3 separate regions of the Homo sapiens genome follow, and regions 1 and 2 are each linked to region 3. Evidence: fine-mapped expression QTL. A gene starts in region 3. Each other region holds a variant in brackets. All regions are shown on one strand. Distances are between the middles of the regions.

Region 1 (4,348 bases), 380 kb after region 3:
TTTAATGTTAAGAATAAGATTGCAGGCTGGGTGTGGTGGCTCATGCCTGTAATTCCAGCACTTTGGGAGGCCGAGGTAGGTGGATCCTTTGAGCTCAGGAGTTTGAGACCAGTGAGGGCAACGTGGTGAAACCCCACTAAAAAAAAAAAAATAAGATTGCAGTAGGTTTTTGCTTGTTGGTCAAGATGTTCCTTTCTATTCCTAGATTATTAAGCGTTATTATTATAAATGGGTATTGAATTTATTCTGGCATCATCATATGGTTTTAATTTTTAATCTCTTAATGTGGAGACTTACATTAATGTATTTTCTAATGTTAAAGTCATCCCTGCAATCATGACATAAACCCAACTTAGTCATAATTTTTCTTAAGTATAATACTTGATTCCATTTGCTAACAGTTTATTTAGGATTTTGCATCTATAATCATAAGTGAGATTGGGTCTCAATTTTCCTTTCTCATACGATACATTTCTGGTGTTGGTATGTAGGATGATCTGCTTGGTACATGGGTTTGGCTGTATGTAACGGATACCAAAAATAGTGGTGACGTGAATGAGAGGGAAGTTTTTTTTTTCTGTCCTGTATTATCTGGAGGTTGGTGGTCCAGGGCTGGTTTGGTGGTTCTGCTTAACCACCCCTAGTTCGTATGGTCCAAATAGCTCATGTACTTTCTAAGTGGCAGGGTGAAGAAACGGCATGTCTCTGACTTTTGAGCATGAATCAAAACTTGCATACCCCATTTCTACTTCTCTTGGCCAGAACTTAGTCATATGGCTACACTCAGCTGCAAGGAAGGCTGGGAAGTGTGGCCTTTATTTGAACTTAAAAGCAAAGATTCTTTTGCTGTGAAAGACAAGGGGAGAATAGGTAATAGGACAATTAGCAGTCTCTACCATAAAGGTTATTTTATATATGCCACATATGGGCAGTATTTCCTTTTTCTATTTTCTGGAAATTTAAGTTTGTATGATTTTTTTTTCTTTTTTTTTTTGGCTGACTTTTGTTTTTTTTTTTTTTAAATTTATTTATTTATTTATTTTTTAATTGATCATTCTTGGGTGTTTCTCGCAGAGGGGGATTTGGCAGGGCCATAGGACAATAGTGGAGGTAAGGTCAGCAGATAAACAAGTGAACAAAGGTCTCTGGTTTTCCTAGGCAGAGGACCCTGCGGCCTTCTGCAGTGTTTGTGTCCCTGGGTACTTAAGATTAGGGAGTGGTGTTGACTCTTAATGAGCATGCTGCCTTCAAGCATCTGTTTAACAAAGCACATCTTGCACCGCCCTTAATCCATTTAACCCTGAGTGGACACAGCACATGTTTCAGAGAGCACAGGGTTGGGGGTAAGGTCACAGATCAACAGGATCCCAAGGCAGAAGAATTTTTCTTAGTACAGAACAAAATGAAAAGTCTCCCATGTCTACTTTCTACACAGACACGGCAACCATCCGATTTCTCAATCTTTTCCCCACCTTTCCGCCCTTTCTATTCCACAAAACCGCCATTGTCATCATGGCCGGTTCTCAATGAGCTGTTGGGTAGACCTCCCAGACAGGGTGGTGGCCGGGCAGAGGGGCTCCTCACTTCCCAGTAGAGGCGGCCGGGCAGAGGCACCCCTCACCTCCCGGACGGGGCGGCTGGCCGGGCGGGGGGCTGACCCCCCCCACCTCCCTCCCGGACGGGGCAGCTGGCCGGGCAGAGGGGCTCCTCACTTCCCAGTAGGGGCGGTTGGGCAGAGGCGCCCCGCACCTCCCGGACGGGGCGGCTGGCCGGGCGGAGGGCTGACCCCCCCACCTCCCTCCCGGACGGGGGTGGCTGCCGGGTGGAGACGCTCCTCACTTCCCAGACGGGGTGGCTGACGGAGGGAGGGGCTCCTCACTTCTCAGACGGGGTGGCTGCCGGGCGGAGGGACTCCTCACTTCTCAGACGGGGCGGTTGCCAGGCAGAGGGTCTCCTCACTTCTCAGACGGGGTCGCGGCCGGGCAGAGGCGCTT[A/C]TCACATCCCAGACGGGGCGGCGGGGCAGAGGCGCTTCCCACATCTCAGACGATGGGCGGCCGGGCAGAGACGCTCCTCATTTCCTAGATGGGATGGCGGCCGGGCAGAGACGCTCCTCACTTTCCAGACTGGGCAGCCAGGCAGAGGGGCTCCTCACATCCCAGACGATGGGCAGCCAGGCAGAGACGCTCCTCACTTCCCAGACGGGGTGGCGGCCGGGCAGAGGCTGCAATCTCGGCTCTTTGGGAGGCCAAGGCAGGCGGCTGGGAGGTGGTTGTAGCGAGCCGAGATCACGCCACTGCATTCCAGCCTGGGCACCATTGAGCACTGAGTGAACGAGACTCCGTCTGCAATCCCGGCGCCTCGGGAGGCCGAGGCTGGCGGATCACTCGCGGTTAGGAGCTGGAGACCAGCCCGGCCAACACAGCGAAACCCCGTCTCCACCAAAAAAATACAAAAACCAGTCAGGCGTGGCGGCGCGCGCCTGCAATCGCAGGCACTCGGCAGGCTGAGGCAGGAGAATCAGGCAGGGAGGTTGCAGTGAGCCGAGATGGCAGCAGTACAGTCCAGCTTCGGCTTGGCATCAGAGGGAGACCGTGGAAAAGGATTTTTTTTCTTATTTGGTAAACTTGTCTATGAAAACCATCAATTTTATCTTTGTTAGGTAGATTTATACTGCTAATCAATTTCTTTAATGATTATAGGTCTTCAGATTTTCTCCTTCTTAGTCAATGTTGGTCAGCTTTACATATAAATAATTTACATATATATAAAATTTACATATATATAATTTTTTTTCCTGCAAAGCTGCCTATTTCATCTAATTTAAAAAATGTCAACCTCAGCTTTAGCTGGGGGAATCCTGGTTAATCTGGTTTAAGAGTATAAGTCTTCAAAGTAATTTTGTTTTGCTTTTCCCAAGTGCCCCAAGGCCAAAACCAGTTTAGTATTACTTTTTATGTTGACTTCTTGGCTTTGGGGTTTTCTGAACCATTCCAGCCATGTAAACTAAAATCCCAAATCTGCATGAAGACAGGCCCAAGGTTAAAATTTCTCTAAGAAAACTTTCTCCATCCAGAGCCCAGGCGAAGACGTACAAGCTTCCTCGAAATCTCATTTTGCTCATGAGAGGTTTTTTCTTTCAGCCCATTCTTTCACCAAGAAAGTGGTACTTGGGGCACCTTGCTTCATGTAAGGTGGCTTTCGGATTCCCAGATACTTGCAGTTATAAGGACCCATCTCTTCACGATTGGTCCTTGAAAACTGAAGCCCCTTGTTTTCTGAGATTAGAAACCGTCCCTTCCCAAGAACAGCTGTAGCATTAACTCACGCCTAATTGGTTTTTAGTTTCCCCTTCGCTTTGGGCCTAGAAGGGTTTTCTTTACTTTAATGTGAACTTAGCTGTGAAATAAAAAAAGTATCACTGTCATGTTTTAACCAGATAGATTCTATTGCAGAAGCCCCTGTTGAAAATAAAAAAAAAAACCAAACAAACAAAAGAAAAAAAGAAAGAAAAGAAAAATAATCGATAGAAATGGAAGTCTAGCTATTTTTCCTTAACGCAATAACTTTATCAGAATATGTCCTGGCTTTGATAAGTCTGGATCATTTTCTTTTCTTAGAACATGATGTGCCTGGCTGGGAACAGTGGCTCACACCTGTAATCCCAGCACTTTGAGAGGCCAAGGTCAGTGGCGCACTTGAGCCTGGAGTTCGAGACCAGTCTGGGCAACATGAGGAAACCCTGTCTCTACAAAAAAATATTAGCTGGGCGTGGTGGCTTAATCCTGTAATCCCAGCACTTTGGGAGGCCGAGGCGGGCGGATTACCTGAGGTCAGGAGTTTGAGACCAGCCTGGCCAACGTGGTGAAACCCCATCTCTACTAAAAATAAAAAATTAGCTGGACGTGGTGGCTTGTGCCTATAATCCCAGCTACTTGGGAAGCTGAGGCAGGAGAATCGCTTGAACCCAGCAGGCGGAGGTTGCAGTGAGCCGATATGGCGCCACTGCACTCCAATTAGGGCAACAGAGTGAGACTCGGTCTTAAAAAAAATAAATAAATAAAATAAAAATTAGCCAGGCATGGTAGTGCACACCTGTAGTCCCAGCTACTTGGAGGCTGAGGTGAGAGGATCACCTGAGCCCAGGGAGGTCAATGCTGCAGTGAACCATGATTGTGCCACTGCACTCCAGCCTGCGCAACAGAGTGAGGCCATCTCAAAAAAAAAAAAAAAAAAAAAAAAAAAAAAAAAAAAAAAAGGTGGGTGTGTCCATTAGATCTGGAGTCAAGTATTTATTTTATTTTATTTATTTTATGTTTGAAAGTATTTATTTTAGATTATTTTATTCATT
Region 2 (4,000 bases), 86 kb after region 3:
AAGCAAAAAGCCAGATAATAGAGCAAGTAATATCTATTAACTACTCATTCGAGACTCCCCCTTCTTTTTTATTTCTTCTTTTCTGTTTAGTATGATATTATCAAAATGCGGTATTCTTTCCCTGCCATCTGCCAGAGTTAGAATTGTACAAAAGGACAGTCAAACAGCACATGGAAGGAAGGAAAAATTAGAGATTGTTCTAAGTGTCCATGCATTGCAAGTGTTACAATTTTGGGGTTCAGTTGTAGTGATTGTGTCTTTCATTGGCAATTAGGGGATCAGCATTCATTTAGAAATTATAATTCTGCTCAGTTTAGTATGATGTCTTTTTTTTTTTTTTTTTTTTTGTAGACAGTGTCTCGCTCTGTTGCCAGGCTGGAGTGCAGTGGCGCATTGTTGGCTCGCTGCAACCTCCGACTCCTGGGTTCAAGCGATTCTCCTGCCTCAGCCTCCTGAGTAGTTGGGACTACAGGCCTGCGCCACCATGCCCAGCTAATTTTTGTATTTTTAGTAGAGACGGGGTTTTTACCATGTTGGCCAGGATGGTCTCGATCTCTTGACCTCATAATCCGCCCGTCTTGACTTCCCATAGTTCTGGGATTACAGGCGTGAGCCACTGCACCCGGCCTGATGTCTTTTCTTAAATTCTCTTTATGTGCCTCCTAGGTGTGATATTTATGAAGCAGCTTTTGTGTTAGGTGAAAATGAGAAAGTATATTAAAGAATAAAGTATGGGGCCGAGAGCGGTGGCTCATGCCTGTAATCCCAGCACTTTGGGAGGCCGAGGTGGGTGGATCACATGAGGTCAGGAGTTTGAGATCAGCCTGGCCAACAAGGTGAAACCCTATCTCTACTAAAAATAAAAAAATTGGCCAGGTGTGGTGGCTCATGCCTGTAATCCCAGCACTTTGGGAGGCTGAGGCGGGCGGATCACGAGGTCAGGAGATAAGAGACGATCCTGGCTAAGACAGTGAAACCCTGTCTTTACTGAAAATACAAAAAATTAGCCGGGCGTGGTGGCTTGCGCCTGTAGTCCCAGCTACTCGGGAGGCTGAGGCAGGAGAATCGCTTGAACCCGGGAGGCGGAGGTTGCAGTGAGCCAAGATCGTACCACTGCACTTTCAGCCTGGGCGACAGAGCAAGACTGTCTCAAGAAAAAAAAAAATTAGCCAGGCATGGTGGTGGGCACCTGTAATCCCAACTACTCGGGAGCCTGAGGCAGAAGAATTTCTTGAACCTGGGAGGTGGAGGTTGCAGTGAGCCTAGATTGCACCACTGCACTCCAGCCTGGGCGACACAGCAATACTCTGTCTCAAAAAAAAAAAAAAAAAAAAAGGAATAAAGTATGGGTCACACTGTTACAGTTGGTTTTATGTGAGTTTATTTTTGCTTCTGACCATTCAGAATAACAGCACTGATGGGGAGAGTTGGGAATGAGAGGGAACTTTCAAACTCGTTAATCCTGTAGTAAGAGTTTTTATCAGGTTGCAGTCTAGAGGAAATTCCTTAATTTGATTGGGAACTTGTATATTTTTGTTAAAGCCTGTAAATTTCTCTTCTTGCCACATCTTTACAAGCAATAGTCTTTGAACGTCTGTATTTTTTGGTGTTAATATCTGTGCTTTTTTTCCTTTTGTTAGGAAGTGAATATGAGGTTATTACTTTCTTTAAGGATTGTAGGATGAGCTGGTCACAGTGGCTCACAGCCGTAATCCCAGCACCTTGGGAGACCATCGCAGAATTGCTTGAGCTCAGGAGTTTGAGACCAGCCTGGGCAACATAGGGAGATTCCATCTTTACAAAAAATTAGTCGTGGCATGTGCCTGTGGTCCTAGCTACTCGGGAGGCTGGGGTGGGAGGCTGCAGTGAGCCATGATTGCACCACTGCACTCTAGCCTGGAAAACAAAGTGAGACCCTGTCTCAAAAAAAAAAGAAAAAAAAAAAA[AG/G]ATTGCAGGATGGGACCTACCACAATGGTTGTTCTGCTTATTCCCCAGGCTGCCTGCAATTATTTCCCCACCCCAAGGAGCTGGAGCCTACTTTTCTAAGTCCCTTTATAAGTAAACTAAGGAGTATTATTTCCTAGTCTGTTGAGTACTGAAAGACAAAATAGCAACAGACCAAACTTGCTACAACCTAGAGGCTAGGTAAAGATTCATTCATTGTTGTTGTGGGATTACCTAGTTCTTAGAAGTAATAATTACCCTTTTTTTTTTTTTTTTTTAAGTTTTTTTGAGATGGAGTCTCACTCTGTTGCCCAGGCTGGAGTGCAGTGGCATGATCTCAGCTCACTGCAGCCTCTGCCTCCTGGATTCAAGTGATCCTCCCACCTCAGCCTCCCAGGTAGCTGGGATTATAAGCATGTGCCACCACACCCGGCTAATTTTCGTATTTTTAGTAGAGACGAGGTTTCACCATGTTGGTCAGGCTGGTCTGGAACTCTTGAGCTCAAGCAGTTGCCCCACCTCAGCCTCCCAAAGTGCTGGGATTACAGGCATGAGCCACCATGTCCAGCTATATCCTTTATTTTTACCTTTTCTCTTGATGTTAGGAGCCAGATTAGTGAGGATAATCTTAGTGATTATGTAGTCATAATCAGCAAGGCATAAACCAGTACCTTCTCTTAAAGGATAGATGAGAAATTTTTTTTTTTTTCTTAACTCTCATAGGCCTTAATTGCTGTTTTGGAGTGGCTGAAGAGTAATTTTGAAGTGTATGTGAAATCTGCCCTTTGGCCACGTCTGTCCCTTTAATTCTATTTATTTATTAGAGACAGGGTCTCACTCTGTTGCCCAGGCTGGAGTGCAGTAGTGTGATCATAGCACACTGCAGCCTTGAACTCCTGGGCTCAAGTGATCCTTTTGCCCCAGCCTCCCAAGTAGCTAGGACTGACTATAGGCATGTCACCATGCCTGGCTAATTTCATTATTATTATTTTTGGTAGAGACAGAGGCTCACTGTTTTTCCCAGGCTGGTCTCAAACTCCTGGCCTTAAGCAGTCCTTCTGCCTTAGCCCCCCAAAGTGCTGGGATTATAGGCATGGGCCAATGCAAAGAACCTTTCACTCTAATACTGCCTGTTCTTCTTTTCTTTTTTGAGGCGGAGTCTCGCCTTTCACCCAGGCTGGAGTGAAGTGGCACGATCTTGGCTCACTGTAACCTCCACCCGCCGCCCTCCCCTCACCAGGTTCGAGTGATTCTCCTGCCTCAGCCTCCCGAGTAGCTGAAATTACAGGCGCCTGCCACCATGCCCAGCTAATTTTTGTATTTTTAGTAGAGACGGGGTTTCACCATGTTGGCCAGGCTGGTCTCAAACTCCTGTCCTCAGGTGATCTGCCCGCCTTGGCCTCCCAAAGTATTGGGATTATAGGCATGAGCCACCGCCCTGACCTCTCATATCACCTTTTCTAAATGATTGTCTGGCACATTTGCTTTCGTGTATGTCAGAACTTCTGTGCTGATTTGTAAGGTGACAGTAGGAGAAAGCTGTTTACCTCCTGTTCATTACCTCTAGGCAGCACACTCTAACTTGTCACATTTAAGCATAGCGACCTTTACAATCCTTGGTGCATATTACTGAGCAGTATGTTACCCACTGCAAGGTCATCTAGGCTCTTTCTTTCAAGAATGTGAGCCAAAGGTTTGTGTAGTAAACTCAGTGATACAGAAAAGACACTGTAAGAGCATGTAAACAGTAATAGTCTTTCATAAGAATTACTCTCTTACCAGTCTGGTTGGATCGGAAACCAAAAATGACAATATAGATAGCATAGTACGATGGTTAAGGACATTGACTCAGGTAAGACAGTCCTGTGTTTTAACCACGCCCAGCCATTTAAGGACTGTGAAATCTTTTTTTTTTTTTTTTTTTTTTTTTTTTTTTTTGAGACGAAGTCTCACTGTGTTGCCCAGGCTGGAGTGTAGTGGCGCGATCTCAGCTCACTGCAGTCTCCGCCTCCCGGGTTCAAGCGATTCTCCTGCCTCAGCCTACTGAGTAGCTGGG
Region 3 (4,348 bases):
ATCTCTCCATCCTGCTCAAGTAGTGAAGAGACAAAGCAGCCTTCCTAGATTGATGCAGAGCTCCAAGGAAAGCAAAGCTGTTCTTGTTGAGATCATTCTGAGAGCGAGAAAGGTGGTTAAATACATTTCAAAGGGCTTCCTGCGGGCTGTATGTGCAGAGATGATTTGAGTGGGGAATGTAGTTAGCTTCCGTTGATGTTAGAACTGGAAGGACCCTCTGCAGTCATCTGCTTGTTTAACTTCCTCCTTGCCCCTGATTTATCAAACTCTGGTGAGGAAAACTGACTTGCCTAAAATCATACATCAAGGTAAGGTAAAATTGAGGAGATCTATTGGGCCGGGTGTGGTGGCTCACACCTGCAGTCCCAGCACTTTGGGAGGCTGAAGCGGGTGGATCACCTGAGGTCAGGAGTTCAAGACCAGCCTGGTCAACATGGTGAAATCCCGTCTCTACTAAAAATACAAAAATTAGCCGGGCGTGGTGGCGGGCGCCTGTAATCCCAGCTACTCGGGAGGCCGAGGCGGGAGAATTGCTTGAAACCTGGGAGGCAGAAGTTGTAGTGAGCCAAGAGCATGCCACTGCATTCCAGCCTGGGCAACACAGCAAGACTCTGTCAAGAAAGAAAGGAGGAAAGAAGAAAGGAAGGAAGGAAGGAAAAAGAAAAGAAATAAAGTTGCCAAGAGATTTTAAATGTTCTCATCACAAATAAATATGTGAAGTAATGCATATGTTAATTAGCTTGATTTACCCATTCTGCAATGTACATATATTTCTTTTCTTTTTTCTTTTTTTTTGAGACGGAGTCTCGCTGTGTCGTCCAGGCTGGAGTGCAGAGGTGTGATCTTGGCTCACTGCAACCTCCGCCTCCCCGGTTCAAGCGATTCTCCTGCCTCAGCCTCCTGAGTAGCTGGGATCATAGGCATGCGCCACCACGCCTGGCTAATTTTTGTATTTTTAGTAGAGACAGGGTTTCACCATGTTGAGCAGGCTGGTCTCCAACTCCTGACCTCGTCATCTGCCCGCCTCGGCTTCCCAAAGTGCTGGGATTACAGGCGTGAGCCACCGCGCCCGGCCCAATGTACATATATTTCAAAACATCATGTTGTACACCATAAATATATACAATTATTAATCATATATGACATATGTATGTGTATAAATAAACAAATATATATATTTGACAACTATAAAGGTAGAACTTGGACCAGAATCCAGGTTTCCTGACCCCCCCAGTCATAATTCCTTGTTAATGTTACCAATTACGAATAATTTTTTTTTTTGAGACGAAGTTTCGCTGTTGTTGCCCAGGCTGGAGCGCAATGGCGCGATCTCGGCTCACTGCAATTTCCGGCTCCCGGGTTCAAGCGATTCTCCTGCCTCGGCCTCCCGAGTAGCTGGGATTACAGGCCCCCGCCACCACGCCCGGCTAATTTTTGTATATTTAGTAGAGACGGGGTTTCACCATGTTGACCAGGCTGGTCTTGAACTTCTGTCCTCAGGTGATTCATCCTCGGCCTTCCAAAGTGCTTGGATTACAGGCGTGAACCACCGCGCCCGGCCCCTTAAGAAGTCTTCACATTCCTCTTTTACTTAAGGAATTACTGGGCTTCGTTTCTGGAGCCTTGTGAGAAGCATTACACTGTCCCCCCTTTTTTTTTTCTTTTTTAAAATTAATTTTCCTGTAGGAAGCAAGATCCCATCTGTCCCTTCTTTAGGCAATGAAGCTTTTTTCACCTTTGCATAAAAGAACAGCTGAGCCCCCTTTTTAAATTTTCTTTTGTCTTACCGTCCCTTGAGGCTAGAAGAGGATTCTCAAGGCACAGAGTTGTGGGCCACAAGAATCCAGGTTGAGGAAACGGTGAAAGTCCTGAGCTGAAACAACTACCTTGGGGCATTCAAGGAACAGCAAACAGCAAACCGACCGGCGAGGGTGGCGGGAGCTGGGCTGGAAATCAGGTGGGAGAACCGGCCAGACGCCCGCAGGCGCGGTACGCAGATATCCTGGAATGCGCTGGGGGCTCTTCCCTGGGCGCGGCTTCAGCACCCCGCATTCCGGTCCCACCACGTCCCCACCCACCTGGAGAAGGCGGAGGCTGCACTGAGTGCCATAAGTAGTCGAGAAGGGATGATTTTCAAGACATACCCTCTCTTTGCTTTCCCCCCTTTCCAATTCTGCCTTGTCTTTTTCCTTGTTGTGGGTGCTGGTGAGGGAAAGCAGTCAAGGAAGTTGGTCCCAAGAGGGGAATGCTTTCCCTTGGGCGCCAAGAGGCACTGACGAGGTGTCAGAGCCTTCTGAGGGACAGATGAGACTTTGGCCCAAGGCCAGGAAGATGTTTTCAGATGTGGGCCGGAAGACTTGACAATGCGGGGTCTCCCTCTTTTAAAAATATCCATATAATCAAAGCCTTTGTTGACTGGCCCGCTCCGGCCCCTCAGTCCTCCACAGATGCGCCCCAGGGCCCCAGCCCCGAGGTCCTTTTCCTAATATCCGCTCTTGCTCTCGCTCACTCTCCTCAGGTCGCCTGCTCCGCCCGCTCCCGCTCCCGATCTCTGATTGCTCCTAACTGACGTCACTCCCGGTCTGTCCCCGCCCACTCGGTGCTGCCATTGGCAGTCGGTCGTGGGTACGCGGCTCCTGTGGGGGAGGGGGGAGCTATGGGAGGGGGCGGGAATTCCCGACTCTAGGCCGGAAGCGCGCGGAGACCATGTAGTGAGACCCTCGCGAGGTGAGTGCGGGCTGTCTGGCAGCGGGGTCCATGTCGGCTGCCCAGGCCTCCCCGGGCCCGGGAACAGGAGTCCCAGCTCACGCATTCTTCATCTGCTTCCCGCGACGCTTGGCGGCCTCGCACCCCGCCTCCTGGAGCCCGGACTTTCAGGCACCGCCCTCAGTGTCGCCTCAGTCCGTCCCGGGACCGCAGACTCTTAGGGCCCCTCTCTTTGGCCATCTGCCTCTAGGTCCCATCCTGGGGCCTGAAGCGCTTGTTCTCTGCGCTGGGAAAAGGGGAACGATGGAGCGATCCAGCACCCAAACTTACCCTGTCCAGGTGGCCCACGAAGCTACCCAAGACATCTCTGCACAGCCCTAGCCTTTTTGGCTTCACCCACTCCGTTCGGGAGTTGGGGACCCGGCCTCTACATTCCTTAGGGGAACTCCAGCTCCAGGTCCTATTTGGAGGCGGCTCCTAGTTTCCTAGTTTTCTGGGGGCACCAGGTGAAAGGGTGATGAGATATCCATACAGCCTTTCTCATGCCTCGGTTTCCCCCGTGCAGTCTCCCTGAATAAGTCACTTGGGAAAGAAAGTGTGAGAAGAGAGGAATGTTCCTGGTACAGGAGTAGATGAGTCACCCTGGGTAGGGGAAGGTCACAAAGTGGCTGGGGCCAGGGAGCTGCACTCTGCTGACCAAGCTTCCCCATTCCTTGCCCCATCTTCCTTTGCATGATTTTTCCCAACCACTCTGGTCTGTCTTCCTAGGTCTGAGAGTCACTGGAGCTACCAGAAGCATCATGGGGCCCTGGGGAGAGCCAGAGCTCCTGGTGTGGCGCCCCGAGGCGGTAGCTTCAGAGCCTCCAGTGCCTGTGGGGCTGGAGGTGAAGTTGGGGGCCCTGGTGCTGCTGCTGGTGCTCACCCTCCTCTGCAGCCTGGTGCCCATCTGTGTGCTGCGCCGGCCAGGAGCTAACCATGAAGGCTCAGGTAAGCCTCTCCTTTTCCCCACACTGCTATGAATGCTTGGCTTAGGGAGGGCTCTGGGGCTGGCGGGGAGTGACCAAAGGAGGAGGGAAAGGCAAGGGTAGCCATTGTTTGGGTTGGGGTGGTCGGCCCTGGAGGGGGTTTGTTTGCTTATTCCCCTCTGTGCTTCACCCCTACCCAGCTTCCCGCCAGAAAGCCCTGAGCCTAGTAAGCTGTTTCGCGGGGGGCGTCTTTTTGGCCACTTGTCTCCTGGACCTGCTGCCTGACTACCTGGCTGCCATAGATGAGGCCCTGGCAGCCTTGCACGTGACGGTGAGCACTGGCCTGGGCATGTGACTTGCGGGAGGGGAATCACACACCTCTGGGAGTGTTGGTTTGTGGAGATTGATTCATGTGCCACTCCATGACTGTGTGGAAGACTTTTGGCATGTGGTATGAATTGTGATTTTTGGTTATGGGGCATAATTCTTTCTATGTGTTCCCTCCCCCTTCCCCATTCCCTGTGTGACCCCTACATTCCCGTTGAGACAGTAAGACACTTTTTCTCAGGTGTGTGACTTGCTCTATGGGTTCTCAGTTCTAGCTACCAGCAAGTGCTCCAAGAATCATCTTCACTCTCTCACCACTTTCCTAAAGGGCTGGAGATAGAGGTCTCTGT

Alleles and levels. Alleles are on the strand shown, and positions count from the first base shown. SD is a standard deviation of normalised expression in the study named.
In carriers of allele C in region 1, the expression in monocytes of the gene that starts at base 2,685 in region 3 tends to be lower than with A alone (moderate effect, 0.61 SD a copy in BLUEPRINT).
For the expression in monocytes of the gene that starts at base 2,685 in region 3, allele AG in region 2 goes with a lower level than allele G (small effect, 0.33 SD a copy in Fairfax 2014).

What was found. PIP is the estimated chance that this variant, and not a neighbour inherited with it, causes the effect. A credible set is the group of variants that fine-mapping cannot tell apart.
Region 1: its variant is the best candidate, but not a certain one, in a credible set for the expression of SLC39A1 in monocytes (BLUEPRINT, PIP 0.56).
Region 2: its variant is the best candidate, but not a certain one, in a credible set for the expression of SLC39A1 in monocytes (Fairfax 2014, PIP 0.87).

The regions. Positions count from the first base shown.
Region 1 is chr1:153,580,589-153,584,936 of GRCh38, reverse strand. No RefSeq gene overlaps it. Among named protein-coding and RNA genes, the nearest start is that of S100A2, 17 kb to the right of the region's middle. RefSeq lists an enhancer at 930-1,854. The variant A/C (reference allele first, on the strand shown) is at 1,995.
Region 2 is chr1:153,876,110-153,880,109 of GRCh38, reverse strand. The region is part of intron 1 of GATAD2B (GATA zinc finger domain containing 2B); the gene reads left to right. Among named protein-coding and RNA genes, the nearest start is that of GATAD2B, 45 kb to the left of the region's middle. The variant AG/G (reference allele first, on the strand shown) is at 1,947.
Region 3 is chr1:153,961,874-153,966,221 of GRCh38, reverse strand. SLC39A1 (solute carrier family 39 member 1) reads left to right here and starts at 2,685. Exons shown (of 4, transcript NM_001271958.2): 1 at 2,685-2,727; 2 at 3,475-3,693; 3 at 3,872-4,002. The coding sequence starts at 3,507. It overlaps MIR6737 (microRNA 6737), which reads left to right and starts at 3,802; the gene lies at 3,802-3,871. RefSeq lists enhancers at 2,309-2,588, 2,629-2,798, 2,949-3,008, 1,898-3,097, 3,049-3,118 and 1 more.